Regions from separate parts of the Homo sapiens genome. Here regions 1 and 2 are each linked to region 3. The links come from fine-mapping of genetic effects on gene expression. A gene starts in region 3. Each other region holds a variant in brackets. All regions are shown on one strand. Distances are from middle to middle. Region 1 overlaps GPSM2 (G protein signaling modulator 2). Region 2 overlaps AKNAD1 (AKNA domain containing 1). Region 3 holds the start of GPSM2 (G protein signaling modulator 2).

Evidence for each region. PIP is the estimated chance that this variant, and not a neighbour inherited with it, causes the effect. A credible set is the group of variants that fine-mapping cannot tell apart.
Region 1: its variant is the best candidate, but not a certain one, in a credible set for the expression of GPSM2 in whole blood (INTERVAL, PIP 0.66).
Region 2: its variant is the best candidate, but not a certain one, in a credible set for the expression of GPSM2 in sigmoid colon (GTEx, PIP 0.74).

Annotation. Positions count from the first base shown.
Region 1 is chr1:108,904,474-108,915,493 of GRCh38, forward strand. GPSM2 (G protein signaling modulator 2) reads left to right here. Exons shown (of 15, transcript NM_013296.5): 11 at 9,865-9,935. Among named protein-coding and RNA genes, the nearest start is that of GPSM2, 33 kb to the left of the region's middle. The variant G/A (reference allele first, on the strand shown) is at 4,673.
Region 2 is chr1:108,833,201-108,844,220 of GRCh38, forward strand. AKNAD1 (AKNA domain containing 1) reads right to left here. Exons shown (of 16, transcript NM_152763.5): 6 at 9,934-10,067; 7 at 4,350-4,506; 8 at 1,729-1,856; 9 at 1,247-1,328. LOC105378891 (a long non-coding RNA gene) reads left to right here. Exons shown (of 5, transcript XR_947687.3): 3 at 990-1,136; 4 at 3,049-3,268; 5 at 3,761-3,803. Among named protein-coding and RNA genes, the nearest start is that of AKNAD1, 18 kb to the right of the region's middle. The variant A/C (reference allele first, on the strand shown) is at 5,196.
Region 3 is chr1:108,871,914-108,882,933 of GRCh38, forward strand. It overlaps GPSM2 (G protein signaling modulator 2), which reads left to right and starts at 5,072. Exons shown (of 15, transcript NM_013296.5): 1 at 5,072-5,315. RefSeq lists an enhancer at 4,728-4,827 and silencers at 4,908-5,307, 5,398-5,467.

The sequences.
Region 1 (11,020 bases), 33 kb after region 3:
AACAATATTTTATAGTTTTTACCATGAACTTAGGAATGGTGATGGTATTGTTCTTTTCTTTTGTAAAAATACATTTAAATTCTCTATCTCTAAGCTCATTCAAAAATTTGTAAATGTGAAGGTGCCAAAATTTTAAAATGTTATTGTTTATCCTTTTTATCTCATATCGTTTTACGTATCTGTTTTCTGTTTAGTTCTTTTTCCCCCATTTCATTTCCAAGGTGAATTTTCTTAGGACTTTTTTAAATTCAGAAAATCTAAGATACTCTCTTTATTTTTCTTTCTTTTTTTTTGGTGGCAAAACCTATCTTTAGGACACCTTCCTTAGGTGCCGATTTGTTTGACATTTCTATAGCGAGGAAATTTGCTATAATGTCTCTTTTTGAGTGAAAGAAAATCTACTTTTAAAGAAATAAAAGGGATAAGATTAGGATCACATTTTTAAATTTCATCAGTATGTGATTCTATATGAGATCATTTTCCTAAGCTTGAGAAATTCTCAGTCTAAAAAAAACTACTGACAAATATTTTGAATTTTAAAGTCAGTGATAAATCTACCTTTACTTTTTCCAATTTTTTTCTTTAAACTCAGGAAAAGAAATTAGTGGCTAGTCATCTGATTTAGATTTTCAAAGAACATTTAGTGAAAAGTTCTGAAGTGTGAACCGTATAATAATTTGTGACTGCGTGCTTTGTGGTTGAATGATGGGCTAAGACGTTTTTCTGTGCTGAACTTTCAAATAGGTTATGCCGTTAAGAGCTCTCATCTTTAAAAAGCAAAAACAAACAGTCGCTTGTCTTCATAGACCCTTCTAGCTGTAGACCTGTTCCTTTGTTCGCTCTTATAACAAAACCTGAAAAGACACTAATATTCATTGTCTTTACTTCCTTGCCTCCCTTTCTCTCTTCAACCCATTCCCGTTGGGCTTTGCCCTCACCATGTCTCTGAGACCTCCATTTTACCAAATATATCATTCAGTTTTCACATGTCAGCTTACTTGATTTTTCTCAGCAATATTTCCTATAGCCAATCATTCCCTTCTGAGAAAACTTTCTTCATTTGGCCTCCAGGATTACTCTGCTTTTCTGGTTTGCCACTCTCGTCTTTATTCTCTTCTCTCCTCTTCTTCATCTTTCCTCTACGTTTGTAGTGCTCAGGGTTCAGTTCTTGGACCTCTTCTTCCTACCTTCTTTCCCTCCCTATTTTCCATCTCTCTCTCCTTCCTTCTTACTGATTTTATCCTTTTTCCTTCTATTCTGTGCTTTAAGTCAGTGCTTCCAATAGAACTTTTCTGTGATGATAAAAACGTTTTACATCTGCCATCCAATGTAAAAGCCACTAGCTACATGTGGCTGTTGATCACTAGAAATGTGGCTACTACAAGAGGGAGTGAATTTTTAATATTACTTAACTTTGGTTAATTAAAATGTAGAGAGCCGCATGTGGCTACTGGCTATTGGACAGCACAGCTCTAGATAATCTCATCCAGTTACTTGGCTTTTATATTGTCTATATACTGATTATTTTCAGATTTATATTTCCAGCCAAAATTTCTCTCATGAGTTTGAGACTCATTTGTTTAAAATTTTCCATTGTCATGCCATATCTAATTGGCATCTAAAACTTAGCATGTCCATAATGTTTTCTCCTAAACATGTTCTTCCTGTACCCCACCCTATCTCAGGAAATAGTATCACCATTCACTCAACTAATCAGGCCAAAAAACTAGGGGTCATACTTGTTCCCTTTCTACTTTTATTTATTTATTTTATTTTATTTTATTTTTAAAGACAGAATCTCACTCTGTTGCCCGAGCTGGTCTCGAACTCTTGTCCTCAAGAGATCTTCCCACCTCAGCTTCTCAAGTAGCTGGCCTTGTTCCCTTTCTTTCACTCACTTCTACATCAAACCTATCAGAAACCTGCCTTCAAAATATATCCCTAATCTCTCCTACAGTGTACTCTGCAACAATCTTAGTATAAGCTACCGACAGCTCCCAGCAGAGTCCTAGCCTACCAATGATTTCTCTTACTTCGATTCTGCATCTCTCACACTTACTTTTCCACACAGGAGCCAGAGTGCTTTTTTTTTTTTTTTTTTCTAAATTAAAAAAATATTTTGGCCAGGCACAGTGGCTCACGCCTGTAATCCCCAACACTTCAGGAGGCTGAGGCAGGTGGATCACCTGAGGTCAGGAGTTCGAGACCAGCCTGGCCAACATGGCAAAACCCCATCTCTACTAAAAATACAAAAATTAGCCAGGCACAGGGGCACAGACCTGTAGTCCCAGCTACTCAGGAGGCTGAGGCAGGAGAATCGCTTGAACCTGGGAGGAGGGTTTTGAGATGGAATCTCGCTCTGTCGCCCAGGCTGGAGTGCAGTGACGGAACTATAGGCACGACCTCCTAGGCTGAAGTGATCCTGCCACCTCAGCCTTTCAAAGTGCTGGGATTACAGGCATGAACCATCATGCCTGGCCTCAGAGTGCTCCTTTAGAATATACGTCGTTCCTCTGTTCAAAACCCTTCAGTTAGTTCCCATCACACCTAGAACGGAATCCTCAGTCCTCACCATGGTTGAAAGGCCCTATGTAATCTGAACCTATCTCTTCAGCCTCTTTTCCTGCCACTCCACCTCTTGCTCACTCTGGCTGTATGAAGACAGGTGTTTTTTGGTCTCTTTTGTTCATTGCCATCTCCCCAGTGTGAGGAGAAAGGATTTGTAAGAAAACTTGTCTATTTCTGGTGTTGGCTCAAGGTAGAAAAAAGGAGCCTTCGCTAAAAATCTTAATTCATGAATTCATAAGCCTCCCTACATACTGGTTTGGAATTTGATTTATACCATCTGCACAGTCTAAGAAACCCTAATCCATTAAAGCACTTTTGGGTTAGAGGTGTTCCTAGAGACTTAGCAGAAGTAAGACCAAATAGTTTCTGGGGGAAAGGCATCCTTGATTCCAGGTCATAAGCGTTTCACAACAAAAAAATTACCAAATATGTAAAGAAACAAGCCAAGATAGTAAGGAAAAAAATAACAAAATTAGGTCATCAAGTTCTTCAGATGTTAGAATTATCAGATATAGAAAATAAAATGACTGTGGTTGAACGTTTACAGAAGTAACAAGGAAATGAAAACAAGAGAATAACAAAAATGTTAGGTAGACTGAAAAAAAAAGCTAACATTTATTGAGTGCTTATGATATGCCAGGCACTGATTTAAGTGCTTTACATGTTTTAACTCATTTAATTGTAACAATTCTAGTAGTTAAGTTTCTGTTATCCTTAATTTACAGGTGGGGAAATGGAGGCAAGAGAGGTTAGGTAAATTTCCCAGGGTTACCTGTGTAGTAAGTGGTAGAGATGGGAGTTAAGCTTAGTCACTCTGGCTCCAGAATCCGTCTTATGTGATAGTTATGTCTTAATGTGATGTTAACACACCTCAATAATTGATAAAAATCAGTCAGGAGTCAGACATCAGTAATAAAGTTGAGATTTGACCAACACAATTAATAGGCTTCATCTAATGCAATATTTTGCAAACTATGTGTCTGACCCATTCATGAGTTATAAAATGAGTCTTATGAGTTGCAGTTAGCATTAAAAATACACATACAGGGGCCGGGCGCCATGGCTCACGCCTGTAATTCCAGCACTTTGGGAGGCCAAGGCGAGCGGATCATGAGGTCAGGAGATCGAGACCATCCTGGCTAACGTGGTGAAACCCCGTCTCCACTAAAAATACAAAAAATTAGCCAGGCGTGGTGGCAGGCGCCTGTAGTCGCAGCTACTCGGGAGGCTGAGGCAGGAGAATGGCGTGAACCTGGGAGGCGGAGCTTGCAGTGAGCCGAGATTGCTCCACTGCACTCCAGCCTGGGCAACAGAGCGAGACTCTGTCTCAAAAACAAAAACAAACAAAAAAAACACAGGAGGCCAGGCGCGGTGGCTCACACCTGTAATCCCAGCACTTTGGGAAGCCGAGGCACGTGGATCACGAGGTCAGGAGATCGAGACCATCTTGGCTAACACGGTGAAACCGTGTCTCTACTAAAAAATTAGCTGGGCGTGGTGGCGGGCACCTGTAGTCCCAGCTACTCGGGAGGCTGAGGCAGAAGAATGGCGTGAACCTGGGGGGCGGAGCTTGCAGTGAGCCGAGATCGCGCCACTGCACTCCAGCCGACAGAGAGAGACTCCGTCTCAAAACACACGTGCGCGCACACACACACAGCCGACAGCCAGACTCCATCTCAAAACACAAACACACACACGCCGGGGCAGTGGCTCATGCCTGTAATCCCAGCTCTTGGGAGGATCACTTGAGCCCAGGAGTTTAGACCGACTTGGGCACACAGGGAGACCGCCATCTCTCCAAAAAATTTTTTAATTATCCGTGCATGGTGGCATGAGCCTGTCATCCCAGCTACTCGGGAAGCTGAGGTGGGAGGATCACTTAAGCCCAGGAGTTTAGACCGACCTGGGCACACAGGGAGACCGCCATCTCTCCAAAAAATTTTTTTAATTAGCCATGCATGGTAGCATGAGCCTGTGATCCCAGCTACTCGGGAAGCTGAGGTGGGAGGATCACTTGAGCCCAGGAAGTCGAAGCTGCAGTAAGCCATGATCATGCTGTTGCACTCCAGCCTGGGCAATAGAGAAAAACCAAAAAACTACACAC[G/A]TATGTGTATGTATGTATATAAAACTGTTGTGTGAAGATTTTGTTGTATGTTTGTGTATGTTCTAGGTATATATGTGTATTTTTTAATATGGGGTCACACCTTAAAAGTGAAAACCACTGCTTTAATGGAAATATATTGACCTAACTGGTCAATTTCCATTATTTTTAAGTATTCATGAAACATTTACAGAAAACTGACAATAAAGCAAATCTCAACAAATTTAAAAGGATTTGTATCACATCTGTATCACACATGCTCTGAGCACGGTGCATTTAATTTAGAAATTAATAAGATAATATATAAAACATTAATCTGAAAACATAACATTTCTCAGTAACTTACAGGTTGAGAAAGAAATCTTAAAGTTAGAAAGTAACTTAGGACTGAATTATAAAAATATTGTTTCAATTTTGTGGCATGTGACTTACATTGGTACTTAGAGCAAAATTTATGTTGTATTTAAAAAGGAAAAAGCTGGCCAGGCGCGGTGGCTCACGCCTGTAATCCTAGCACTTTGGGAGGCCCAGGCGAGTGGATCACAAGGTCAAGAGATCAAGACCATCCTGGCCAACATGGTGAAACCCTGTCTCTACTAAAAATACAAAAATTAGCTGGGCGTGGTGGCATGCACCTGTAGTCCCAGTTACTCAGGAGACTGACACGGGAGAATTGCTTAAACCCAGGAGGCGGAGGCTGCAGTGAGCCGAGATCACACCACTGCACTCCAGCCTGGCGACAGAGCAAGACGCCATCTCCAAAAAAAAAAAAAAAAAAAAAAAAAGGAAAAAGGCTGAAAGCTTAATACCATCTAGCTTAAAAAGTAAAACAAACAAACAAAAAAAAACACTGAAAGAAGGCAAAAATTAAAAAGCAGAATTTAATAAAATTAAAACAGTGTTTTCTTTAAGTCAAAATTTGGTTCCAAATTGTTTAGTTTAATTTTGACTAAGTCTACAGAAAGAGGGCATAATAAATATGCAGAGATTAAAAAGAGATTCTGAATAACGTTATGACAAAATATTTGAAAATCTAGGAGAAATGGGCAATTTCTGGAAAAACAAGTTACCAAAACTGTTCCAATGGTAAAATGTAATGTGAATGGCATGCTAATGGCTAAAATTATAAAGAAATTCGAGCAGTAATTTAAAATCTTCCCACTAGGAAAATACCTGGCCTAGATGATTGTACAAGTGAGGTAAACCAGCCACTTAAGAAAACTAATTATAATACCTTACACAAAAATTTTATAGGCAACTGAATAAGTGGACATACTTTTATCAATCTTTCTGAGAACCATAACCTTGATATCCAAACTAGACAAGAACAATACAAGAAAAGTAAATTACCGGCCAGCCTTACTTGTGAACATAAGATATAAAAATCTTTACAAAATATTAGCAAAGCAAATCCAGTAATGTATTTTAAAACAAACGGGGAGCCGGGCGCAGTGGCTCACCCCTGTAATCCCAGCACTTTGGGAGGCTGAGGCGGGCGGATCATGAGGTCAGGAGTTCGAGACCAGCCTGACCAACGTGGTGAAACCCCGTCTCTACCAAAAATACAAAAATTAGCCAGGGGTGGTGGTGTGTGCCTGGAATCCCAGCTACTCAGGAGGCTGAGGCAGGAGAATCACTTGAACCTAGGAGGCAGAGGTTGCAGTGAGCCGAGATAGCACCACTGCACTCCAGCCTGGGCGACAGAGAGAGACTCCGTCTCAAAAAAAAAAAAAATTCAAGTGGATTCAACATTAGAAAATCAATTAATGTAATTCACTAATGAACATAGTAAAGAGAAAATCACCCAAATATCCAAATCTATTAAATCTATTTCATATAGAACTAATGAAATAGTTCTATTTCATTAGAACTATTAAATGAAAATATTCCATTTATAAGACACAGTAGCAGATTGGAGAAAGAATAAAATCCAACTACACACTACTTGCAAGAGAAATATCTAATATAAGGATATAATAAACCTGAAAGTAAAAGAATAGAAGATTCATCATGCAAAAACTAACCAAAAGACAGTCAGTATAGCTATGTTAATAGATAAAATGTACTTTAAGGCAAAGGGTCTTACTAGAAATGAAGAAGGTCGGCTGAGTGTGGTAGGTCACGCCTGTAATCCCAGCACTTTGGGATGCCGAGGCTGGTGGATCACTTGAGATCAGAAGTTCAAGATCAGCCTGGCCAACATGGTGAGACCCCGTCTCTACTAAAAATACAGACATTAGCTGGGGGTGGTGCAGGGCCCTGTAATCCCATCTACTCAGGAGGCTGAGGTGGAAGAATGTCTTGAACCCAGGAGGTGGAGGTTGCAGTGAGCCGAGATCACGCCACTGCACTCTAGCCTGGGCAACACAGCGAAACTCCATCTCAGAAAAACAAAAACACAAGCAAACAAACAAAAACCAAAGTAAATGAAGAAGGTCACTTTACGGTGGTACTTACCAGTGATTAACAGTTCAATTCACCAGGAAGATGAATGCATTAAATGTGTCTGGGCTTAATAGGTGTTTATAACAAGGCCTCAACGTACATAAAGCAAAATTGACCAAAGAAATAGGAAAATCTACAATCATAACGGGAAATTTTAATACATATCTCTTAGTAATTGATGGGTGATAAACCATACTCAAGTGGGAAGACAATTTTTTTTTTTTTTTTTTTTTTTTAAAGACAGGCTCTTACTCTGTCACCAGGCGGAACTGCAGTGGAGTCATCTCAGCTTACTGCAGCCTCTACCTCCCAGGCTCAAGCAATCTGCCCACCTCAGCCTCCTGAGTAGCTGGGACTATAAGGCACATGCCACCATGTCTGGCTGATTTTTATATTTTTTTGCAGATATGGGGTTTTGCCATGTTGCCCAGGCTAGTCTCGAACTTATGAGTTCAAGGGATCTGCCCACCTCAGTCTCCCAAAGTGCTGGGATTACAGGCATGCACCACCGTGCCCGGCTGACAAAATTTTATAAAAGATTTCAGTTCTTCTCAAATTGATAAAAATTAAGTGCACTGCCAAACACATCACAATTATTTTGTGGAACTTCATGAAGTTATTCATAAGTTTATATGAAACAAAAAAGTTCTGAGAAATACCAAAACATTCCTAAGAATATGAAAAGTGCTTTCTTTACAGATATAAGTAATAAGACAGTGTGCTGTTGGCATAAAGACAAATAGACCAGTGGAATCGAGTAGAGAGCCTATATTCCTCACATATATGGAAAATAATCTCACATAAAAATGAATTATTGATGGATTAAGGATTTCAATGTGAAAGACAGATTTAGAGCAGTAATAGTGATGATGCAGGAGAGGTGCAGTGGCTCACACCTGTAATCCCAGCACTTTGGGAGGTTGAGGCAGGAGGATCGCTTGCATCCAGCAGTCAAGACCAGCCTGGGCAACATAGGACCCCTGTCTGTATAAAAAAAAAAAAAAAAAATGGACATGGTGTTGCATGCCTATAGCCCCAGCTACTTGGTAGGCTGAGGTGGGAGGATCGCTTTGAGCCCAAGAGGTCACCTAAGCTGCAGTGAGCTGTGATTGCGCCACTGCACTCCAGCCTGGGCAACAGAGCAAGACCTCTTCTCAAAAAAAGAGATCGGGGGCCGGCCAGGCATGGTGGCTCACACAAGTAATCCCAACACTTTGGGAGTTGAGGTGGGCAGATCACTTGAGGTCAGGAGTTCGAGACCAGCCTGGCCAACATGGTGAAACCCTGTCTCTACTTTAAAAAAAAAAAAGGGTGGGGGGGACACGGGGCGGGGGGCAAAAGTGATGAACAGTACACAAATAGCCCATAAATATATGAGAAGATATTTAACTTCATCTCATCAGCAAACATCACAGTGGAGTACTGGTAGAAACTTATGAGGTAAACAAAAATTACTACCAGTATTCAAATGATGCAGGGTAATGGAAACTCTTGTGTGGTATTGATGGGATAGAAATTGGTATACCCTGAAGTACAATCCAGCAACATTCTGGTGAAGTTAAAGATGCGCCAACTGGATGATCCAGCTGTTTCACTCCTGTTGTGCTCCCAGTTATATACTGCTGATACCCACCAAACTAGAAGAAATGCTTGTTCATGTACACTGAGAGACGTTTCCAAGAATATCTGTAGTGTGCTTATCATAGCAAAAAAATTGGAAGCAACCCAAATATCTGTCACTAATAAAATGGATGATTTCCTAGTCCACTCTACAGTCTGTTATTTTTGAGACTGTGTGGATAGTATAAACCAGTTATTATAAAAAAGCCTTTGCCAAAAACAGCAATGAAAATGAATTAAGGTATACATGGCAACTTGGATGAATCTCACAAACATAAGGTTTCTCAAAGATGGTTGCAGAATACATACAGTATGATACCATTTATAAATGTTTCAAAACCAATATAGCTCTAAAACCAATATAGTTTCAAAAGCAATATAGCACATGCTGTATTGCTAAGAAATACATACATTTGTAATGAAAATGCATAAAAGCGCAGGGAAGACAAGGGAAATTATGAGGGGAGTTATACAAGGGGAGTTTAATGTGTTTGTAATGTTTCTTTTTTTAAGCTGGGTATTAGGTATTTCTTATGCCTTTTAAAATATTGCCTAATATTTTAAAACATTGAATGGATATGGAAATTCTCTGTATTTAATAACTTTATTGAAAAAAGTTTAAGGACTCGTTTACTTGTTTTCTGACTGGCAGTAAGTCTGTCATCTAATGAGATCTTAAAATAGAAAGGGGTAACCTAGAAAAGAGTAACAGCATAGTAGTGGGGATGCTATTTTGATTCTTTTCACGCAATTGAAGGCCTACAGCCTTTTCCTTCTGTTATAAGGAATAAACTGCTCTACAGATTGTTATTTTTGAAACTGTGTGGATAGTATAAAACCAGTTGTTATAAAATGCCTTTTTCAAATTAAGGGGTAATGTAGTAACCAGTGTTAGTTTCCAACCAAAATGTAACTTCCTTACATCAAAGCATTTTAGAGGGGAATGTATATTCTATTTTTGTGTAGCTGGTATAGAAAATTATTATTCTTGGAAGAATACATATTTGTACAGGTTTTCTCGTTTCATATGGGTTTGTGTATCAGATTTTAGAACTGAATAATGTAATGATGCTGAACTTGTACTCTTAAGGGCTCCCTGGTTTATTTGAATTAATTTTTTTTAAACAAAGGTGTACGCCCCAAGTTGGGACGCCGGCATAGTATGGAAAATATGGAACTTATGAAGTTAACACCAGAAAAGGTGGGTGGCAGGTTTTATGTTTTAAATTTCATGAACTATTATAAAATGTTTTAGTAATTTTTAATTTAATGAAATAATTTAAATAAGGCTTGCCCTATATAGGTATCACTTTAAAATTTGCCTGTAAAAAAAAAGTCAGAAAAAGTATAGTGCAAAAAGAATGAGTACCGTATGCTGCCATCTGTTTAAGAAAAATACATGCATATATTTCCTTTGTAGATTCCTAAAACATTCTGGAATAAGATATAAGAAACGGGCTAACAATGATTTCTTCTGGGAAGAGGACTGAGTGTCTGGGTTAGGCTAGAAATACTTTATATACCAGTTTGAACTGTTTGAATCATTTACTATGCAAATGTATTACTTTTAATTAATAGAAGATCAGGAAGATCAAAAGGACAAGCTTTTTTCCCCAACTACATAGCAACATTATTGCCAAGATAAATGAAATTTATGATCAAGAGGAGAGTTGTTTTTCTGGCTGCATTCTTGAAAAGCATTTTTTTTTAACAAGTACTTTGTATTGAAGATACATCTTCCCTAGGCTTTTTCTTGCAGGAGAGGGGTGCACAGTAAAAGGGAAGGGACTTCATAATTAGAAACAGGTTATTGAAGAAAACATCAAGGCTACTTTTTTCCGTTTCCTTTGAACTGAATAATTACATTGTCAAAATAGGCTCTCGGCCGGGCACGGTGGCTCGCGCCTGTAATCCCAGCACTTTGGGAGGCCGAGGTGGGTGGATCACGAGGTCAGGAGATCGAGACCATCCTGGCCAACATGGTGAAACCCTGTCTTTACTAAAAATACAAAAATTAGCTGGGTGTGGTGGTGTCCGCCTATAGTCCCAGCTACTCGGGAGGCTGAGGCAGGAGAATCGCTTGAACCTGGGAGGCGGAGGTTGCAGTGAGCTGAGATCGCGCCACTGTACTCCAGCCTGGCAACAGAGCGAGACTTGTCTCAAAAAAAAAAAAAAAAAAATAGGTTCTCATTCTTTTATGTATATTTTTATTTCTTTTTTTTCTTTTTTGTTTTTTTTGAGACGGAGTCTCGCTCTTTGGCCAGGCTGGAGTGCAGTGGCGCGATC
Region 2 (11,020 bases), 39 kb before region 3:
AAAGCATAAAACAATATATATAGTAAAATCCTATTTTGGCCAAAATGTATATATAGGAGAAAAAAAGACTGGAAGGATATACACTAAAATATTAGCAATGGGCCAGGCGCAGTGGCTCATGCCTGTAATCCCAGCACTTTGGGAGGCTGAGGTGGGTGGATCACCTGAGGTCGGGAGTTCTAGACCAGTGTGGGCAACGTGGTGAAACCTCCTCTCTACTAAAAATACAAAAATTAGCTGCACGTGGTGGCACATGCCTGTAATCCCAGCTACTCAGGAGGCTGAGGCAGGAGAATCACTTGAACCCAGGAGGCAGAGGTTGCAGTGAGCTGGGATCGCACCATTGCACTCCAGCCTGGACAACAAAGCGAGACTGTCTCAAAAAAAAAAAATTAGATTGATTTTCCTCTCAGTGGAAGTTTCTTCTTTATACTTTTCTTTATTTTCTCATTTCTCTTGTAATAAGCATGTATCAGTTTTATAATTTAAAAAAAAAGGGTTTTTTCATCCATTTTTCCCATGGTTTTTTTTTTTTAATTTTTATATTTTATCATTGCTGAGCTTACAGGGTTACTCCTCCACTGACATTTAAGGCAGATTTACATTAGCAGAATGCAGGGAGGTGCCCCTCCACCTGAGTTGGAGACCCGGGCATCACCTATCATTTACCCTGAACAAATATCACCTTTCTAAACTACTCTTCCTCTGCAAAAAGTCTTTGCAAACTGTAAAGCTCTGAGCCAACATAATTATTATATCATTGTTTACTGCTTATTATAATATTATAATATAATATCATTTAAGACCCCGGGGTTGGTAATCCCAGCATTTCCAATTCATTCGAAATGAAATAATCTCTAGACCCTCAGAATTTAAAATGTGGTCCGCAGACCAGAACCAGCAGCTTTGGCATCACCTGGGGCTTGTTAGCAATGCAGAATTGCAGGCTCGCCCCAAACTTACTGATTCAGAGCCTGCATTTTAACAAGATCTGCAGGTGATTCATAGGCTCGGAGAAGTTGGAGAAGCTCCGGTCTAGGTACGCCTGCCGAGATTCTCAGGAGTGCAGAAAGTGGGAAACCGTCAGCAGTACCAGCCATCACCAGCACTGACACCCAGGATGCCATTAGGAAGAGGTAAGTGATCTTGATTATGCCAATTTCACAGTCACATTCAGCAACACTGGTTTTAGTTAAAGAGCCAACAATGAGAAGAACCCAGCCAGGCCCCGGCTGCAGGACATTACCCCAGAGTTAGAAGACAGCCTCATGGCCACTTGGTCTGGCTTGTTCTGGGCAGCTGCATCTCCATAATGACCGTTTAGGTAACTAATTTAAAAAAAAAAAAAGCAGTTTGAATGTTAGAATCAGTTCTTGAGCTACCTGGGAGCTCCACTATTTGGAATCACTTGGCATCACCCCTGGGATGGTGGGAGCGAGCAACCTAAGGCAGAGAGTGCTATGGGCCTCATGCGGCCACTTGACCTTCACCTCTCCCCGCGTCCCCCAGCCCCAGCTGTCCCGTCCCTCAGATCTCTGCCCAGAGGGTTGCAGAGGCTGGCCAGGCCCTGCTGGTGGGGCAGGTGAGGAGCCAGGCTACCAGGCTTTGTAACTCGTGGTCCAAGACTGCTTTTCCTGTGGGAGCCTCATGGGCCTTCCTGGAGGCTGCATGAGGAAGGGGCCTCTTTCTGTGTCCTGTGTCTGCTGGGGCTCCAGGGCTAGGACTCACGTCTGCGGGGCCAGCTCACAGAGCTCCTCGTTGGGGGCCTCCTGCGGCCCTCCTTGGGGTGTCCCTGTTACCTCACTCCCACCTGAGCCTCGAGGCCCAGAAGGGTGGCCGGGGTGCTCCTTGGGAATCTGGGGGAGCCACACAGAAAGACTTGAATTAGAGCCACAGTCCCACTGGAGGTGACTCAAAATCAGTTCAGCATCCCTACAGCACCCCTAAGGCACCATAACATCCTGCCTGGCGTCCCCCCACCCCTGTCTCCCCCAGCTCTTTACCTAGCTGTCTTCTCATCCTCCAAGACTCAGTCCAAATCTCACCTTCTCTGAAAAACCTTCTCCCTTAGTAATTCAAACCTTCTGCATTTAGTTACTTTTGGTCATATCCCATTACTTAATAGTCATGATAGCTAACACCCAGGAGTAATGTACTCACTGTGAGCCAGGCCCTATTTTCAGTACGTTACTTATATTAACTCATTTAAACATCATAACAGCCCTGTGAGGCAAATATTATTATCTGCATTTTACAGAAGAGAGAACTGAGGCACAGAGAGGTTGCATAACTTTCCTAAGATCACAAAACTAATAAGTGACAGAGCCAGTATGTGAACCCAGGTAGTCTGGCTTCAGAGTCACGCAGAATGTATTATTATTTTCTGCACTGTGCTTTTTAACATTTCATAATTATATGTTAATTTAATTTTTTTTTTTTTTTGAGATGGAGTCTTGCCCTGTCACCCAGACTGGAGTGCAATGGCGCAATCTCGGCTCACTGCAACCTCTGCCTCCCGGGTTCAAGCGATTCTCCTGCCTCAGCCTCCCAAGTAGCTGGGATTACAGGCGCCCGCCACCACGCCCGGCTAATTTTTTGTATCTTTAGTAGAAACGGGGTTTCACCATGTTGGCCAGGCTGGTCTCGAACTCCTGACCTCGTGATCCGCCTGCCTCAGCCTCCCAAAGTGCTGGAATTACAGGCGTGAGCCACCGCACCTGGCTTAATTTGTTAAGTATATGTCTCTCTTACAGAAATGTAAGCATCTTGAGGGCAGGTGATTTGTTTGTTGTTCATGTTTTATCCCCAATACCTAGAAAAGTGCTAGCCTATAGCAATACATACTGCTGAGTGAATGAAGGATGCCAGCACTAGACTCTTTCCAGAACCACTTACCACAAAGTTATTTAGAGAGTTCTCATCATTTCACAACAGTAGCTGTAAACTTGGGACCAAGTAAAGAAGAGCAGATCCAGACCCCAGGGAGCTGCCAGGTAGAGGGCAGGGCCAACCCTGAGGTGGCCTCACAAAGACTTGTGACTCCTGCAGGTCCAAGACTAGCAGGGCAGCCGCTGTGAGCCTGGAAACTGCTTGGGTGCCTTGAGATGGGCTGTTACATCCACGGTGGCTCAGGGCTTCCTCTATGAAGCATCGACTCTCCTGGGCTTTCAGCTGGACATTCAGGATTCAAAGATGAGTGCAGAGTCACAGAGACAAACGAGACCCAGTGCTGCGGGGACACAGAGGCCGGGGCCAAGAATTCCTCCAGGTGCGGGGGATTGGGGGGCTTGGGGGTGAGGAGGGTGGCTGACTAGGGATGCATAAATGACCTGACGCTAGAGCTGGGCCTTGAATGAGTGAGATTTTGCCAGGCAAGTAAGTGCTTTGAGGAGGCAAACACTTCTTCGGAAGGGCTAACCTTGACATAATCTTTGTCACTTTGTCCTTCGCTTTGACAAAATCCTCATTCAAGTTTGAATATCAGCCCCAGGCTGTGTCTTCAAATACTGTATGAAACTAAAGAGTCAATTTAAGGTATTTATTTAAATGATTCTGTTTCTCAGAATTTTGATTTTAGTCTGAATGTTCTGATAGTTGAGGCTACAAAGGCAAAAAGTATAGAAAGACAGTGGTGGTTAATTTGAATTCCCAATCTTGCATAAGTAGAAATCCAAAAGAATTTAACTTGAGAGAAGGAAAATGCAGAAGTGGATTCATGGGAAATAATTATTTCACTGAGTGTGCTATTCTTTATTTTCAGGTGGCTCATGCCTGTAATCCCAACACTTTGGAAGGCCAAGCGGGCGGATCACTTGAGGTCAGGAGTTTGAGACCAGCCTGGCCAACATGGTGAAACCCCATCTCTACCAAAAATATAAAAAATTAGCCAGGCAGTGGTGGCATGCACCTGTAATCTCAGCTGCTTGGGAGGCTGAGGGAGGAGAATCACTTGAGCCCGGGAGACAAAGGTTGCAGTGAGCTGAGATCGTGCTACCACACTCCAGCCTGGTGAGTACAAAACTATGAAGAAAAAAAATTATTTCTTCCAGGCATGATCTACAAAAATTTTCTTATTAATTTGGAAGAAATAGCTCTTCGGTGGTTTAATGGATTTAAACAGCATTGTTACATCCTAAACTATAAAGATGTTTCAAAAATTAACACTTGAAATAGCTTCTAATCTTTAAAAGCTGGTTCCATTTAAAATAATATAATTCATGGGACTTTGGAAAGTTAAATTTTCATGAGATATTAAAAATGGAATTCAGTGAATCCATGAATTAGGAGTCTATAAATGCAAAAACACCATTTTTCCTGGCACAAAATTAGACTGTACATTGCTGTATTACCTCATTTGAGAGTGAAGAGAAGGTGGAGGCCAAGTCATCCAGGGTAACTGGAGAACTCACAGGAAGGGAAGGAGCTGAAGTATATTTGCTTTCATCCATTTTCTCTTTAACATCTTCAAGCAGCATCTCCAATTTGAAGATTTCACCTTCCACTTTTCTAAGTAAACATAAACACACAGGCATCTTCTGGGCTATGTGGTTGGCATTCTAATTAATAATGACAGTTCTTGAATACAGCATTGATTTATATTATTAATGTGGCCTGTCTTCTGTCACAAAGGATAATGGGAGCCCGCATGACTGTTCATAGTTTCTCTGACAGCCTGGGCTCTGATCTTCACCTGCTGTCCATTAGCTGCGTATCCTTGTATAAATCACTTAGTATTTCTGGGCCTCCAATGTCTCACTTATAACCTGGGATAACAATATTGTACCTTACTTATCTGGATTTGATGATTTTGAGATCCCTTACAAGGGATTCTAAGAACTGTGATTCTATGGAATTACTTGTTATGCTAATTTAAAAAGAGGAAGAATATTAGATATCTGAATAATTTAATTAACAAGTTCTAATCCATATGAATATATGTGTATGTGTATATAAATATATATTTTACCCAACAAAGAGAATCCATTTTCTTCAAATCCATTACATTTATAAAAATTTACCTCGTAACAGTCCACAAAGGAAAATTTCAAGAAAATCCAAAATATTAAAAATTATACTACCTACATTCTCTTATCACTAGACATTAACAACAAAAAGATAGCCCCCCCCCCAAAAAAAACCCTGTTTAATTAGAAATTTTAATACCTAAATAGCTTTGGATTAAGTAGGAAATAAAA[A/C]TGAATGTTAGGCATAACTTACAAGTCAATGACAAATGAGAGAATAACATAGGAAAACCAATGTAATGCAGTTAAAGCAGTACTCTGAGGAAAACTTCTAGTCTTAAATGCATTATTGGGGGAAAAAATCAAAAATCAATCAACTATTTAAAATAGGAAGATAGAAAAGGGAATATAAAATAAACCACAGAAAAGGATTCATAAAATTACTAGAAATAAATGAGACTTAAAAGAATTTGATCAATAAGATAAAACATGTTTTCTTCCAAAATATCTATGAAACAAACCACTGGAAGTCTGAAAAACAAATAACATTAAGAATGAGAAAGGAAAAATAGGAAAAATTTTAAATCAAAAGGCATTGAAAAATCCATATCAACACCATTTAAAATTTAGGTGAACTGGGCAAGTTTCTAGAATAATATAAATTATTAAAATTCACTTTTAAAAAAGTAGAAAATATGAAAAGACCAACAACCAGAGAAAAATGGAAAGTGTTAAAAATCTACTCCATGAAAGGCATGAAGAGTGGGATAATGGGTGAGTTCTACCAAGCCTTTTAAAAAAAATTTCAATGTCTCTAATATGTTAATTTTTATGTATTACATAGTTTAAAATGTAATTTATAACAGTTTGAAAGCATATATTTCAACATATATTTTTAAAGGAGAAATTTAAATCAAGTATATGCAGACCCCGAAGCACGTGTATAGAACCTTGGAGTTCACTAAACATAATTCTACCAAGACTTTTAAGCAACAGATAAGTCCTATATTATTAGACTCTTCCAGAACATGAAAAGAAAAGGGGCCCGGCGCGGTAGTTCACGCCTGTAATCCCAGCACTTTGGAAGGCCGAGGTGGGTGGATCACGAGGTCAGGAGATCAAGACCATACTGGCTAACATGGTGAAACCCCGTCTCTACTAAAAATACAGAAAACTTGGCGGATGCTTGTAGTCTCAGCTACTTGGGAGGCTGAGGCAGGAGAATGGCGTGAAGCCGGGAGGCGGAGCTTGCAGCGAGCCAAGATCGCGCCACTGCACTCCAGCCTGGAGGAGCGAGACTCCGTCTCAATAAAAAAAAAAAGAAAAGGGAAAATTGCCCAACTCATTCTGTGGTTCAACGTTAGTATATTTATTAACATATTCCACTAAATTAATAGATTAAAGGAGAAAAACTAGATTTCTAAATCCCATTTGATTAAACATTTTCTTGAATTAAATAACAACAAAAGCCCTAATTCTAGAAAGCTAGGAATAGAAGAAAACTCTCTTGATGAAGCTTATCTATTTGAATCATACTTAGGAGAGTTCTCATTATTATTAGTAACATGACAAGAATGCTGTCTTTTATGGCTCACGCTGGTAATCCTAACACTTTGGGAGACCACAGTGTGGGAGTATCACTTGAACCCAGGAGTTCGAGACTAGCCTGGAAAACATAGGGAGACCATGTCTCTACAAAAAAAATTTTTTTTAATTAGCTGGGAGTGGTGGCATGCACCTGTAGTCCCTGCTACTCAGGAGGCTGAGGTGGGAGGATCCCAGAGTCCAGGAGTTTGAGGTTGCAATGAGCTATGATTGTGCCACTGCATTCCAGCCTGGACAAGAGTGAGACTTTGTCTGAAAAAAAAAAAAATGCTGTCTTTCACTAATATTAATTATCCAATATTGTTCTGGAAAACCTAGCAAATGAAATAAAGAAAAAGAAATGAGATAGATAAGAATTGGAGAGAAAAGAAAGTACAATACAAATATTCTGGAGTAAAAAGCTTATTAATATTTTCAGATGCTATGGATTGTCATACTTAAAAATTAAGACAATCAACTAAAAAATCAACAAAACACTAAGAAGAGAATTGCATAAGGTAGCCCAGTACAAGTTAAATATACAATATGGAAATACTTCCTATGACATCAATTAGAGAAAACATCTGTCGACAATACTCAGAACACTATAAAATAGCTAGTAATAAACCTAACAAAAAAATGTGTAAAATCTGCATGAAGAAAACGTGATGGGAATACTTACTACAAAGATTTCAGTTCTTCCCAATCTAACCTATAAATTCAATACATTCCTAAGCAAAATCCTCATGAAATTTTATTAAGAACCTTGGTGAGCTGATTATAAAGTTTATTAGTAACATGAGTGTATAAGAATAGCTATAAGAAAATTTTAAAAAGAAGAAACATTTCTAAATATACACTAACCTATAATAGTTTATGTGGATAATGTAGAAATAGACACATAGATCAATGGGATGGAATAGAAACAGTTCTGTATACATGTGGAGGTTTTGTATCTGATATAAGGGGCTTTTTCAACCAGTGGGGAAAGGCTGCCCTATTCAATAAGTGGTGGGACAAAGATCTAAGCATGAAAAAAACAAAGTGATAATTGAATAAAATATAGGAAACTATGTTGGGATCTTGCAGGCAGAAGAGAATGAAACAGGGGACAAGGAGAGACTGAAAGTTTAAAAGAAATGAGCCCGGGTACGGTGGCTCATGCCTGTAATCCCAGCACTTTGGGAGGCCAAGGTGGGCAGATCACTTTAGGTCAGGAGTTCAAGACCAGCCTGGCCAACCCGGTGAAACCCCGTCTTTACTAAAAATATGAAAAAATTAGTCAGGCATGGTGGCATGCACCTTTAATCCCAGCTATTCTGGAGGCTAAGGCAGGAGAATCGCTTGAACCTGGGAGGTGGAGGTTGCAGTGAGCCGAGATCGCGCCACTGCACTCCAGCCTGGGCAACAGAGCAAGACTCCATCTCAAATAATAATAATAGTAATAATAAAAATAATAATAATAAAAGAAATAAAATGATGGAGCAAGGCCTCAAGGAAGTAGAAAGGGATGGGTTCAAGGACCATGGCTAGAGAGGTTGGAGAGCAGACTAAGGAAGGGAGAGGAGGTGAAAACATGGGGATTTGGAGATAGAAGAGACATTTTTGAGGGAAGTTGTGATCTTTTCTTTAAAGCAGAACATAAGATTTTATGCTGAGACTCTCAGGGAGAAGTGGCTGATGAAGGTAGAACCCCATTTCTTGAATTCTTGGCTTCTGAAGTTAATATGTGAAAGAAGCAAATTACTATTGGACTACATTCTGACAAGCAAGATGCATGAAATCCAAGCAAATATTTTTGCACATTACCTTGTAAAGGTAATAATGAGAAGGCTTTAATAAGAGCACAGCAGGTGATGTAAACAAAGGACTAGTCAATGAATTTGCAGAATTCTTGCCCCTCCAGAAAGCCCTCTGCATTAGCCTTTGGACTCAACACTTATAAGGTTCTCGACATATCAAGAACCCAAGGGTTGTATGGGATTCTGTTCCTTGTCACATTATGCCCATTTGAGAACAAGGGGACTATTCTGGAGCTGATCAGTCTTTGCCTGTCCTGAGGTGACTTCAGCCGAGATTTGGGAAAGTCTGGGTCCCTCCCTTGCCCCAGTGTTGAAAGCTTCTCCCATATATGGAATGTAATTGCAGTTGAAGCTCTTTTTATTTATACTCATGCCAGGCACAGTGTGGCTGTAACTAGGATATAAATAAGACATTGAATAACTTTGGTCTTAATGTGCACAGAAACCTGTCTTTAAAATGACTGCCCAAGCAGAAGATTCCTTGGAAAATAAATATCCTTACTCTATTAATTTTAAATAGCAGAAGCATGCAGAGTTCTTTCTTCCTCTCCCCCCAAAAAAAGCCTTTGGGAAAAAAATCAATATTAAAACCTCATCCTTACTGTCTAATTACTCAGTGCTGAAATAAAGGTAGACAGAGGTTCCATTAATTTTGGAAAAGTAAAACCATACCTTGGGGAAAAAAATGCCACAGAACGCTAGGGCTGAAATGTAAACCATTAAAAAATTTGGCAACAACAATTCCATATTAAAATGCTATGAATAGAAAGGGCTAAACTCACAAATATTAAGCCTACTAAATAGTTTCTTTTAATTTATACCAGGAAATTATAGGGAAAGAATCCTCTCCTTGAGTCCTGGAATACAGCTTAAAATTATCTGGAATGGAGAAAGGAGAATACAGTGCCATAAAAACTACCAGTTAGAAACTTCAGTTTGGAGTGTGTGTTCAAGATTCTAATGTGAATTAACTCAGAAATCATTTAACTTTAAGCTTTCACGCTTTTCCTTTATCAGGATTTGTAGGTCCCTCACCCTGACACCAATTAACTTTACAATGACCCCCTCCTGCCCAGTGTGCCTTGGAATTATCAGTGAATGGGAAAGAAAAGGGGAAAGAGAGGGACAGAAGAGAGAACCAGGCAAGGACAATAAAGGCAGGTGTGGGGAGAGATAGATAAGAGAGGAAAAAGCTGAGAGGGAGAGGAGAGGAGGAACTTGAGAAGAGGGCCCTCTGTGGTTATCATGTGAGCCTTTCTAGGGTTTTCTTAGGCTCCTCTGGGTCTCCAAACCAATTATAATGATATTCAACAAATTGCAAAATTTTGGTACAATGCCTCTGCCCCAGGAAGCATTTGTTCATTTTGGGTGTTCCATCTGAGTCAATGTCCAGCACAGCACCTTACACTCAACAGGTCCTCCATGCTGTCTGTGGTATTAGGTGACACTTTGTTCATTGGTGACACAGTTTCTGCTGACCCTAGACCAGTGGCTCTCCAAGCACTAAGCCAGCAGCCACATCAGAATCCCACCTGAAGGAGATCACCTTTGACCCTTCCACCTTACACAGTTGGTTTAAATCTGACCTTTCTGGATCAAAGTCACCAACGATTGTTGATTCGTGCTTGTGGACTTGCTGCTGCAAAGTCAGATGCTTGTCCTTGGTGGCCAGAAAGTTCTGCTCCAGCAGTTCAAGGTGTCCCTGCAGTTTCTCCAGGACCTGCAGCGGTGAAGTCACTGGAATCATTCACATGCAAGCCTGTGTGTGTAATTGTTTTCCCAAAAACACAAAGCAGGTGTACCCTACAGTAGTGTCAAAACAAAGCTGCCATCCTTCTCCCAGCAGCATAAATTGTTTTGTCTCAGAGTCTGACATCTAAACTACAGACAACCCAAGGGTCATCTCAACATTCACAAACCCTCACAGCACACAGCTCAAAAGTACAATTACTTCTGATTTCTCTCTCAGAACCCACTCAGAGGCCTCTGGCCTTCCTTAGTGGGACATTCATAATCCTGTATATTTGCAGAATGGTTTTTAGCTTACAAAGCATTTTTCCATTCCTCATCTTATTTAATCAACACATCAATGTTGTAAATGTAGTAAAGTATATTTTATTATCCCACTTTTACAAAGGAGGAAATTGGAGCTCTAGCAATATGTCTGAAGGCACATAGATCTTAAAAAGGAACTGTAGTTACATGGCCTGGGTTTCAGTCTGTGGGGAGTTGGAGGATGAGATGGGGAAGGAACAGCAGGAAGATTTAGCCAAAGCTGTGAATGGGTCTTCCAGACATCACTACGTGCAGCCTCAAGCAGATGAATGTTTAAACTGTGCGGGTTAGGGGCATGTTGAAGATGTATGGAGGCTTCAGTTCCACATCCCCAGTCACTAAACATTCCCTGAGCACTTTCTATTTCTGGCCCTGGGCCAGAAGTGTGAGATTAAAAAATTGCATCAGGCACAGTTCCTGGTCTTAGAGATGTTATTCCATTGAGAAAAGAGACTGTGGCTTAGAGTACTTAGCCAAAGGCCAGGCACAGTGGCTCATGCCTATAATCCCAGCACTTTGGGAGGCCGAAGTGGGCAGATCATTTTAGGTCATTAGTTCAAGACCGGCCTGACCAACATGGTGAAACCCCATCTCTATTAAAAATACAAAAATTATCCG
Region 3 (11,020 bases):
ATTAGGCATGTTAGTAGGCTGTTTCCCTGCATTTTGAAGTCTCCTTCCCATTCTCTTTTTCTTAGCTATTCCTTTGGAAAGCTCTTACTCACTCACCTACTCCACACTCTCATTTTTTCCTTCTTTTATTCTTATTTTATATATATACATACACCTATATATGTGTATATATGTACATACATATATAGATACATATGTATGTGTGTATATATATGTACACACTTTTTTTTTTTTTGAGACAAGGCCTTGCTCTGTTGCCCAGGCTGGAGTGCAGTGGCGCAAGCACAGCTCACTGCAGCATTGACCTCCTGGGCTCAAGTGATCCTCCCACCTCAGCCTCCCAAGCAGCTGGGACCACAGGTACATGACACCACACCAGGCTAATTTTTATTTTTTTGTAAAAACAGGGTATCACTATGTTGCCCAGGCTGGTCTCCAACTCCTGGGCTCATGCGATCCTCCCACCTCAGCCTCCTGAAGTGCTGGGATCAAAGGCATCAGCCACCGCACCGGATCTCCTTTTATTCTAAAAGGTGGAGTTATCAAGTCCACATTCTTGCTGAGGAAACTACACAACCAATCTTCTTTCTTTTAGTCAAGGGAGCACTGTTACTCTGATAGATTTTGTTGGGGGAGGGAAGCAACAAATGTTATTTACTTGGTTATTCAAGTTTGCCTTGATTCAGTGTGGTCGTTTATAATTCAGGGAAGTCTAGCCACCCTGGTTTCATCTTAAAGCAAAGTTTGGCCTATCCTAACAACCCCACATGTTGTGAGGCTATGTACATTATCAGTGCTCTCCCCCTACTCCAACACACTGGAAAATGGTCAAGGAAGCCTGTCAGCAGTGTGATCACCAGGGGGTTTCATCTAGTACTGTGGAAGTGATGTGGTAAAAACTTCATTGCTGTGTTCCCAGCATCCAGCAAAGTGCCTGGCATAAAATAGGCATTTAAACATAAATGTTATGGAGCAGATCACAGTATGTTTTTAAACAGATCCCTTCCTCTCTCTCTCTCTCTCTGTCTTTCTCTCTCTCTGATCCAGGATCCCCAGCAAGACTAATGTGCCTTTTTGTTTTTCATGACATTGACATTTATAAAGAGTCTGGGCTAGTTGCAGAATGTCTCAAATTCTGGATTTGTTCCAGAGTGCTTTTTTAAAAATATAAATCAGGACCAGGCATGGTGGCTGACACCTGTAATCCCAGAACTTTGGGAGGCCGAGGCAGGCGGATCACCTGATGTCAGGAGTTCAAGACCAGCCTGACCAACATGGTGAAACCCTGTCTACTAAAAATACAAAATTAGCTGAGTATGGTGGCACATGCCTGTAGTCCCAGCTAATCGGGTGGCTGAGGCAGGAGAATTGCTTGAACCCTGGAGGTAGAGATTGCAGTGAGCTGAGATTGCACCATTGCACTCCAGCCTGGGCAACAAGAGCAAAACTCCATCTCAAAAAAAAAAAAAGATATATATATATATATATATATATATATATACGTATATATATATACATATATATATATACGTATTTTATATATATATATATATATATATATATATATAAATCAGATGAAGTTATTCCCATATTTAAAACCTTCCACAGGATTCCTATAATATTTAGAAAATAAAGTCCAAACTCACTACCCTGGCTTACAAAGGTCTACATTGCCTTTTGTATGTTTTCTTCTTTCTCACTGCAGCCACAGTGGCCTTCCTCCGGTTTCTCAAGTCCACAAAGCTCTCAAATCCTGCAAAATCCTCGCAGGACTTTGCACTGGCTGTTGCCTTTTCCTAATGTGCTTTTCCCTGAAGTTTGCTTGAAGGCTGGCTCCTTCTCATAATTCAAATCCCAGTTTGAATGCCGTTTTCTCAGAGAGGACTTCCTTATCTTAGCCCCCAATCTGAAGTAAAGTAGTCACTTACTCACTCTCACATCACCCTTCTTGTAACTCTCTGCATGGTACCTATCATAACCTGATATTTTTCTTTTTCTTTTTTCTTTCTTGAAGCAGGGTCTGGCTCTGTCACCCAGGCTAGAGTGCAGTGGCTGGATCATAGCTCCCTGGAGACTTGAACTCTTGGGCCTCAGCCTCAGCCTCCCGAGTAGCTGAGACTACAGGTGTGTGCCACCACACCAGGCTAATAAAAAAAATTATTTTTGTAGAGATAGGGTCTCACTATGTTGCCCAGGCTGGTCTCAAACTCCTGGCCTCAAGCAGCCGTCCCACCTTAGCTTCCCAAAGTGCTGCAATTACAGGTGTGAGCACACCCAGTCCTGATATTTCTTGTTGTTTATTTTTGTTGAGCTCCAAGAGATCAGGGGCTGTGTTCTGTTGTGCTCACTACTATATTCCCTGTACCTAGAACAGCTCCTGACACACAGCAGAAGTTTAATACATACTTGCTGAATACTGTAATGAATAAGCTGAGAGCTGAGGATGAAAAGAAGCCAACCATTTAAAGAGCTTGGGGAAAATCTAGGCAGGGAGGAGGTCCTGAGAGAACCTTGAGGCTTAGTCCATTCTAGGGCATGAAGAATGCCCTGTGTACTTGGAGGAAAGTGAGGCAGCAGGAGGAAAAAATAGGAGAGAAGAGAGAAATTGGCAGGGGCAAGATGGCTTAAGGCCTTTTCCCCCACAGGAAGTTTGGATTTTATTTTAAATTAAATGGGAAATCACTAAAGGTTTACGAGTACGAGAGTGACATAATCTGACTTATGCCATTTAAAAGATATTTTTCAATTTGAGTGATTAGGAAGATGGAAGTAACTAATATCAGAGATAGAAATCACATATGTAAGAGAAGATTTGCAGGGGGTAAATAATTCTGGACATGTTGAATGTAATGTTGTACTTCTGGCTGGGTGAGGGGGCTCATGCCTATAATCTCAGCACTTTGGGAGGCCAAGGCAGGAGGATCCTTTGAGCCCAGGAGTTCAAGACCAGCCTGGGCAACATAGTGAGACCTTTTCTCTACTGAAAAAATAAAAATAGCCAGACATAGTGTCAAGCTCCTGTGGTCCCAGCTACTGGGGTGTAGGGGAGGGGTGAGATCGGAGGATCACTTGGCCCTGGGAGGTTGAGGCTGCTGTGCAGTGATCTCCAGCCTGGGTGACAGAGGGAGGTCCTGTCTCTCTCTCTATATATATAAAATTTCCTTTGTGGCTTTCACAGTATCCATACTTTAAAAGAATTTATAATTAAGAAGGAATTAATACCTACCTCTGAAACAGTACAGCCAACCAATTCCATTGTTATTTACAAGAACCTGATATTAAAGATGGTTGTAACGATAATAGGTATCAAGTATGGAGCAGTTTCTATGTGTCAGGCCCTATGTCAACCACTTAACAACCTTACCTCACAGAAGCATCATAGCAACCCTTATTAGAAGAGGCTTTATTATGTTTTACAGGTGGGGAAACTAAGACTAAAGAAGATAACTCATTCAAGGTCAATCAGCAAGTAAGTAGCAGAATTGGAACTCAAACCCAGGTCTAGTTTGATGATAAAGCTGTTCCTTTAAGCAATTTGCCATAACATGCACCTAATGGGAAATGTTGCTTGGATCACTGGTTATGGCCATCATTCACGGAGATACTGAACCCGGAGTTTTCTTTAACATAGCCTTTACCCTGTAGAAACATTTAAACTTCATTTCAGAAGAGAAATATCTATTTGAAAAATAATCTAAGTAAATTCATCAGATGCTTTACCCCAGAGAGACTCTGGTCTTGGTATTTTGGTTTTTGTTGTTGTTTGAGACGGAGTCTCGCTCTGTCGCCGAGGCTGGAGTGCAGTGGCGCGATCTCGGCTCACTGCAACCTCCGCCTCCTGGGTTCAAGCAATTCTCCTGCCTCAGCCTCCCGAATAGCTGGGATTGCAGGCGCCCACCACCAGGCACGGCTAATTTTTGTATTTTTAGTAGAGACGGGGTTTCACCATTTTGACCAGGCTGGTCTCCAACTCAGGTGATCCCCCCGCCTCGGCCTCCCAAAGTTGCTGGTATTACAGATGTGAACCACCGCGCCCGGCCGGTATTTTGTGAAGAACAAACTATAAGGTGACTACTATTTTGGGGTCACCTTGACATGGAGGAGAGGTGAATGGAAATAAAACTTATTCTTCCCAGTGTCTTTAGAATGTAGGCGCTGAAACTGAGTGAAACTGAGTAAAACTGCCACCCAATTTTCCTGGGAACCAGCGATTCTGTAGTCAACAGAAGTTTGCTTTTCCAACAGCTGGAAACGCCAGGGTTGGGCACAGCCTCAAGAACTGAGGCTGCCTTGTTCAGACTTTCACACGGTCCCTCTGTTCCTTCCACAGAGGCCTCTTTTTCTTCTATATCCCGCATCTGCCGCTTGGGACACTCATTCTGTAGCGCAGCACCAAGTCTTCCAAAAAGGCGGCGCTGGTTTTGCGCTCCTTTTTTAAAGGGATCTAGGCCAGCCTCTATCTGAACTCTGTACGATGTTTTTTGTTTGTTTGTTTTGTTTTGTTTTTGAGATGGAATTTCGCTCTTGTTGCCCAGGCTGGAGTGCAATGGTGCGATCTCCACTCACGGCAACCTCCGCCTCCCGGATTCAAGCGATTCTCCTGCCTCAGCCTCCTGAGTAGCTGGGATTAAAGGCATGCGCCACCACTCCCAGCTAATTTTGTATTTTTAGTAGAGACGGGGTTTCTCCATGTTGGTCAGGCTGGTCTCGAACTCCCGACCTCAGGTGATCCGCCCGCCTCGGCCTCCCAAAGTGCTGGGATTATAGCCGTCCGTCACAGCGCCCGGCCAACTCTAGACAATATTTATTGCTCTACTTTTTAGTGTCTGAAGAAGAAAGAAGAGGACAGGAAAGAAACTTCAGTCTGAGGGTTGAGGACACGTCCCGGAGCAGAGGAGGACCAAGCTCCCAAGCCCCCTGTCACCTTGACACGCAGACGGTTCCCCAGGACTGCGAAGAGGGGGGCAACCAGCGCCCCGCCCCGCCCCGCTGCGCCGCCCGCCATTGGCCGGTCCGAAAGACGCGGGGCGTTGTCGGTTTGAATGAGAGCGCCTGGAGCCGGGGCGCAGGCGCAGAGGAGGGCGGTGTTGAGACCGGCGGAGCGGCGGGACCCCTAGGTGGCGGAGGGACGCTCCGGGAAAGCGAGGGGCGCTACGAGCTCTGGCCCACGTGACCTGCCGGGGGCGGGAGCAGGGGGCGCGCCGGCCTCCTGCGGTGCCCCTGCCTTGGGGAGGGGCCGTGACCACCCGTCTGTCGCCCGAGGCGGCCGCCGCTGCACCTTCACCGCGTACCCGGGACCCGCCCGCCCGCGGGAGGTGAGCGCTTCCGCGACGCGGGTTCTGAGGCGTTTGAGGGGCTCTCGGAGGGAGGTGACAGGGAGGGGTGCGTGTGCGTGCGTGTGGGGCTTCTGTGTCCAGAGGTCTGGGGGTGACGTCCTTTGTTTTGGGCAGGAGGCGGGCTGGGGGCTTGCGGGACCTGTGGGCGCTGCGGGGACGCGGCGTCGATGCTCAAGAAACCAGAAACTCGGCTTGAGGAGTTGCTGCTTTTTTGTCGGAAGGTCTTCAAATGAGAGTAAAGCGTTAAGAGCCTCACTCCTGAGTCTTTTTTTTTTTTTAAGATAAAAACTATACTAGAGTCCAGCGACTTCTTACCACTCTGAATGTGAGTAACAAATTGTGAATCAAAGCCCGAATCCCCGTGGAATTCATTCCGAGGCTGATTGCAATCACTTGGAGTCGGGCGCGTCCTACCTAAACCAGGCAGTTTATGGCAAATACCTGCCTTGACCGTGCTTAAATTAGTGAACTTTTGGGCACCAACTGGTCGATTTACCATAGAAATTGGTAGTTGCTGCAAAAAGAGTAAGTAAACATAAAACGTTAAGAAAACTCTTTCCTGAAATCTATAGAATACCTTCGAATAAAAAAAAATCTGTAATTTCCTTGTTTTAATAGTAACCAGTTAGAGCATTTGAACTAGTAGCATTTGAACTCTGTTAAAGAAAACGAGTAAGGATGGAAATTTTATTGGCCTTAATGCATAATTTAACCACACCGTAGAATTAAACGAAGTAGGTTCTTGGCTTTCCTTTCTATCGGGTTTGCATTGGAGCGTTCGTGGGGTGTGTTGGAAGTCAGCAGGACCAACAGAGCTGAGTTTTCAAGCTGCCACTTTAGAAGGGTGTACCGAAGATTTCTGGCCTGATAATAGCCGGTGTGATTGCTTCTGATAAATACCACTTTTGATTGGGTTCTCACTATTCAGGAGCAGCTTTAGTTGATTGTTTAGAAGTGAATAAACAACATTAAAAAGGGTAGATCACTGTTGGTTGACATGGTGTGTGTAAGGAGAGGGGGGCCTCAGGGATTAGGGGTGGTCTCACACCTACTTCTCTTTACAACTACCACGGAGTCGTTTTCGCAAGCTATTTCCCAGGCTATTACTTATAATTTAAGTATTGGAGCGGTTTCAAAGTAAAAAGTTGTGTGATGTTGTTGTAGAGGCATGTCTCCAAAATCCTCTCTGGCCAGATAAGCAGTTTAATTGTATTTTCTTACATTCTTAAATCAGATATTCGGTGTTACAAACATATTTTAATATAGATCTGAGACTTGCTTACTAGACTAATTAAAACAGTGATAAGATATAGTAGTTTTAAAAATGACCTTTTCATAAACATAAAATATTTCTAAGATCTATCTTTAGAAATTTGTAATTAGTTCTCTGGAATTTTAAAATGGAAAATCTGACATAGATTTAGGTTATTCTAAATTTATTTGAATATATATTAAATATGTCTATTTTATAATAACAGTTACTGTTATTACTACAGCACTATGTTGAGTACTTTTGTTATGTATCAGAGCCAGGTGCTGGGTCAGGTGCTTTATAAATCATGTCTGTAATTATCACAGCACATTTTAGGTAAGTGTCATTATGCCCACACCAACTGAGAGTTTAGCGTAAGATCATATAACTAATAAGTCACTGTGCCGAGATTCAAATCATGGCCTGATCCCAAAGCACATGCTGTATTGCTTCTGTGTGTCTGTTTAAATCTCTGCTGTGTCTCTGGATTCCATTTGTAGGGACAAGTTCTACTTTAAAGATGCCTTTAGGTGCTGTGTTTTGTTGTAGCTTCGCAGAAATATTTCAATCTTTCTGTTGGAACTATCTTGCTTCATTATTTTATAAATCATCTTATAAATCACATTATATTTTCAATATCTTCTTAATCATCTTTATACAAAACATAAGTGAAGAGTAAGACTTTTCTGAGTTTCTTACATAAATATGAATAGAATCTTTACTGTGGAGAAGAAATGTATTACAGTCCGGTTTTCTCACTATTGTAGGATTCTTTGGCCTCGTCATAATTCCTGTCTTCTTCCCAGGGAAGAAATTAAAGTTTGTTGGGCCTCTCTTATGTGCAAAGCAATGTCGTTGGTGTTGTGAGATGACAAGAAAATGCTTCCTATTCAGTAGTTGTTTCTGGAGTTTTTGTAGTATTTTTCTTTTCTCCCCATTCCTGCCTTATATGTTGCTGCTGGTTTATCTTCCTAGCAGAGATCCAACTTGGCTATTCCTTTGTGGGGAAAAAATACCAGCAAGGTTCCCCATTGTGTAAATAAAAGGCTGAGGCCGGGTACGGTGGCTCACGCCTGTAATCCCAGCACTTTGGGAGGCCGAGGTGGGCGGATCACGAGGTCAGGAGTTCAACACCAGCCTGACCAACGTGGTGAAACCCCGTCTGTACTAAAAATACAATAGTTAGCCCAGTGTGGTGGCACACGCCTGTAATCCAAGCTACTCAGGAGGCTGAGGCAGGGAGGCGGAGGTTGCAGTGAGCCGAGATCGCGCCACTGCACTCCAGCCCGGGTGACAGATCAAGACTCCATCTCAAAAAAAAAGGGGGGGCTGAATATGAATATATGCTTCTGCCACATGTTCAGAGTCCCTCACAGTTTGTTACTGTTCTACCTTCTCAGCCTTCTCTTTCACTACTCTGAATACTGTGTGCTTATCCTGGAACACATTCTGTGCATTTCTACCCTCCCTTTTTCTTGAGCCATTCTTTTCCCTTGACTGGAATGCCTTTCCTTCATTTGGCTAATAAGATCTACCCATCCTTCAAGGTGCTGTACAAAATTCCTTGCTTCCAAAAAGTTTTCCCTGGTCCTTTTCAGTTAGAATTATTATTCCCATATTATCACAAAACATTATTGAATAGAAACATTTATTTTCCCACAGAATGGTGATAACTTTTGGGAAGAGAAGACAAAATCATGTTTAATATATTTTCCTATGGAGAATTCTAAACTCAAACTCTCTAGGGACCCTTTCTAAGCATTTATAATATTTCTGCATTTGGGATTTATTTCTGCTTTAAAATGTGTTTGGGTCAGGTGCAGTGGCTCACACCTGTAATCCCAGCACTTTGAGGGGCCCAGGTGGGCGGATCACTTGAGACCAGGAGTCGAGACCAGCCTGCCCAACATGGCGAAACCCTGTCTCTGATAAAAATACAAAAATTAGCCAGGCGTGGTGCTGGGCACCTGTGGGAGGCTGAGAGAGGAGAATCACTTGAACCCAGGACGTGGAGGTTACAGTGAGCCAAGATGGCGCCACTGCACTCCAGCCTGGGCGACAGAGTGAGACTCCGTCTCAAAAAAAAAAAAAACAATGCTTAGTGGAAAGGACCATTTCTTTTCTATTTCACTATTGAGCTTTAAAATTATGTATATGTATTAATTGATTGAAGCTGATGACTGGACCATCGTTGGTAATAATAAATGGCTATGCTTACCAAAAAGGTTTATATATAGTTCAGATGATCTAACCTGGTGGCAAGAAAAGTAAATTATATTTATTGTCTGATGAATGTTACCAGTTTGTGTAGATCCATGGATGGAAGAAACAGACCAAAAACAAACAAAGAAACAGACCAAAAGTTATTGGCATTTAAGTGGCAGTCAGGATCAGATAGTTTAGATAAATTCGAAGAAGCACAAAATGTAACCTGGTTTGCAAACTTTTTACTGCCAGTGGAGTAAAGCAGGGCTAGGATTTCTTTGATAAAGAGCTAGCCTTTCTTGTCTGCTCTGATTGCATACCTTGGACAGTGCCTGGAAGTCCACCTAGCTGTCTAAAGGGAGTCTGTCTATTTTGACTTCCTAATCAGATAATTAAATGTGAGGCAGTTAGAGTTATGTACTAGTTGATCTTTCTATATGTCTCTGTCAATTCCCGGGATATGGAAAAAATGATTGCCTTTTCTTTATGGTTAGATGCCGTGATCTAGCAATTTTGTTAATTTTGAGGTTTTTGGAGCATTGCTTGGAAGATGCTATTAAGAGACAGATTTGTTCCTTGCAGATTGTTAGTTGTAAATAGTAGTGGAGGTTGGAGGTTGAACTTGATGACTTCTCAATATCCTTTCAAACCTACAAATTATTTTCCAGTTCTTCGTCCTGTGATTAAATTTTCTTATCCTAATGATCAAATTTGTAATTTAATATTTGTTGCAAATTTTACTAGTCTTACACTATATACACACACATTGTATCTAGGAAGTAGGTTTGTTAACTCCATGTAATGAGGAACATGAGTGAACACATTATTGCTAAATTGGCTAGAGAGTTCTTAAAACATGAATCATGAATCAAGAATTGCTTGTTTGTTCAGTGAATATTTTTTTGTGTGAAGTGCTACCTAATTGTTATGGAGATTGTAATGTAAGAGGCACTTTTAAAGATATTCTTCCCTTGAGAATAGTAAGACTATATTATAAATTGCTCTTATTGAAATAGTGAATAGCATTCTGTCTTCTTGCTTATTTTAATGGTCTTAGAAATGGTTCTTTCTACATGCAGTTTTCATCAAGTAAAATATTTTGCAACTTTATTTATATTCATTTACTTATTCGTTAATTTGTGAAACATGTAAATGCTACATGTTTACATCTTAAGGAGTATGAAATTAACATTTTATAATTGCAAAATTTAGAATTTCATTAAGAACTCATGGATGAGAACAATATTTTGTTTTATTTTTTTAGAGACAGGGTCTCACTCTGTGGCCCAGACTGGAGTGCAGTGGTGCAATCATCGATTACTATAACCTCCAACTCCTGGGCTCAAGCAATCCTCCTGCCTCATCCTCCCAAGTAGCTGGGGCTATAGTCACAGGCCACCACACCTGGCTGATTTTTCAATTTTTTGTAGAAACGGGGTCTTGTACGTTGCCTGGGCTGGTCTTGAACTGTTGGTCTCAAGTGATCCTTCCACCTTGGTCTCCCAAAGCACTGGGATTACAGATGTCAGCCACCGGGCCTACCTAAGAAAAATATTTAAATTTAATATCAGTATCTGTGGGGAATTGGTTCCAGGACCCCCTGAGGATACCAAAATCCATGGATGCTCAAGTTCCTTATATAACATGGTATAGTATTTGCATATAACCTATACGCATCTTCCCACAAACTTTTAATCCTCTCTAGATTATTTATGATACCTAATACGATGTAAATGCTATGTAAATAGTTGTTATATGGTATTGTTTAGGGAACAATGCCAAGGAAAAAAGTCTACATGTTCAGTAGAGACACAACTTTTCATTTTCTTTCCTGAATATTTTTGATACGCGGTTGGTTGAATCCACTATGCAGAACCCACAGATCTGGAGGACCTACTATAATTTAATTTAATTCTAAGGTAAGTTAATTCTAATACCTCTCTTTCTGCTCCATTTTATAAATAACAGCCCAAACCTCATAGTGGATAACGGGAGATAATATCATTGCCAGTTTAGCTGTTTGTGTAATCTAGACGCCTTTGGAGCTATTGCAATGAGTATCCACACTAATTCCCTTTATTAATTTTTTTATTAAGGAAAAAAGAGGCACAGTGGAATTCTGAACAAAAGGAAAAGAGATTTGATGTGTTGATAGCTGCTATTTGATGTGTTGATAGCTGCTACCTTTTTGTTCTTTCTTAAAATACTGCTCCCTAGCCCGTGCTGT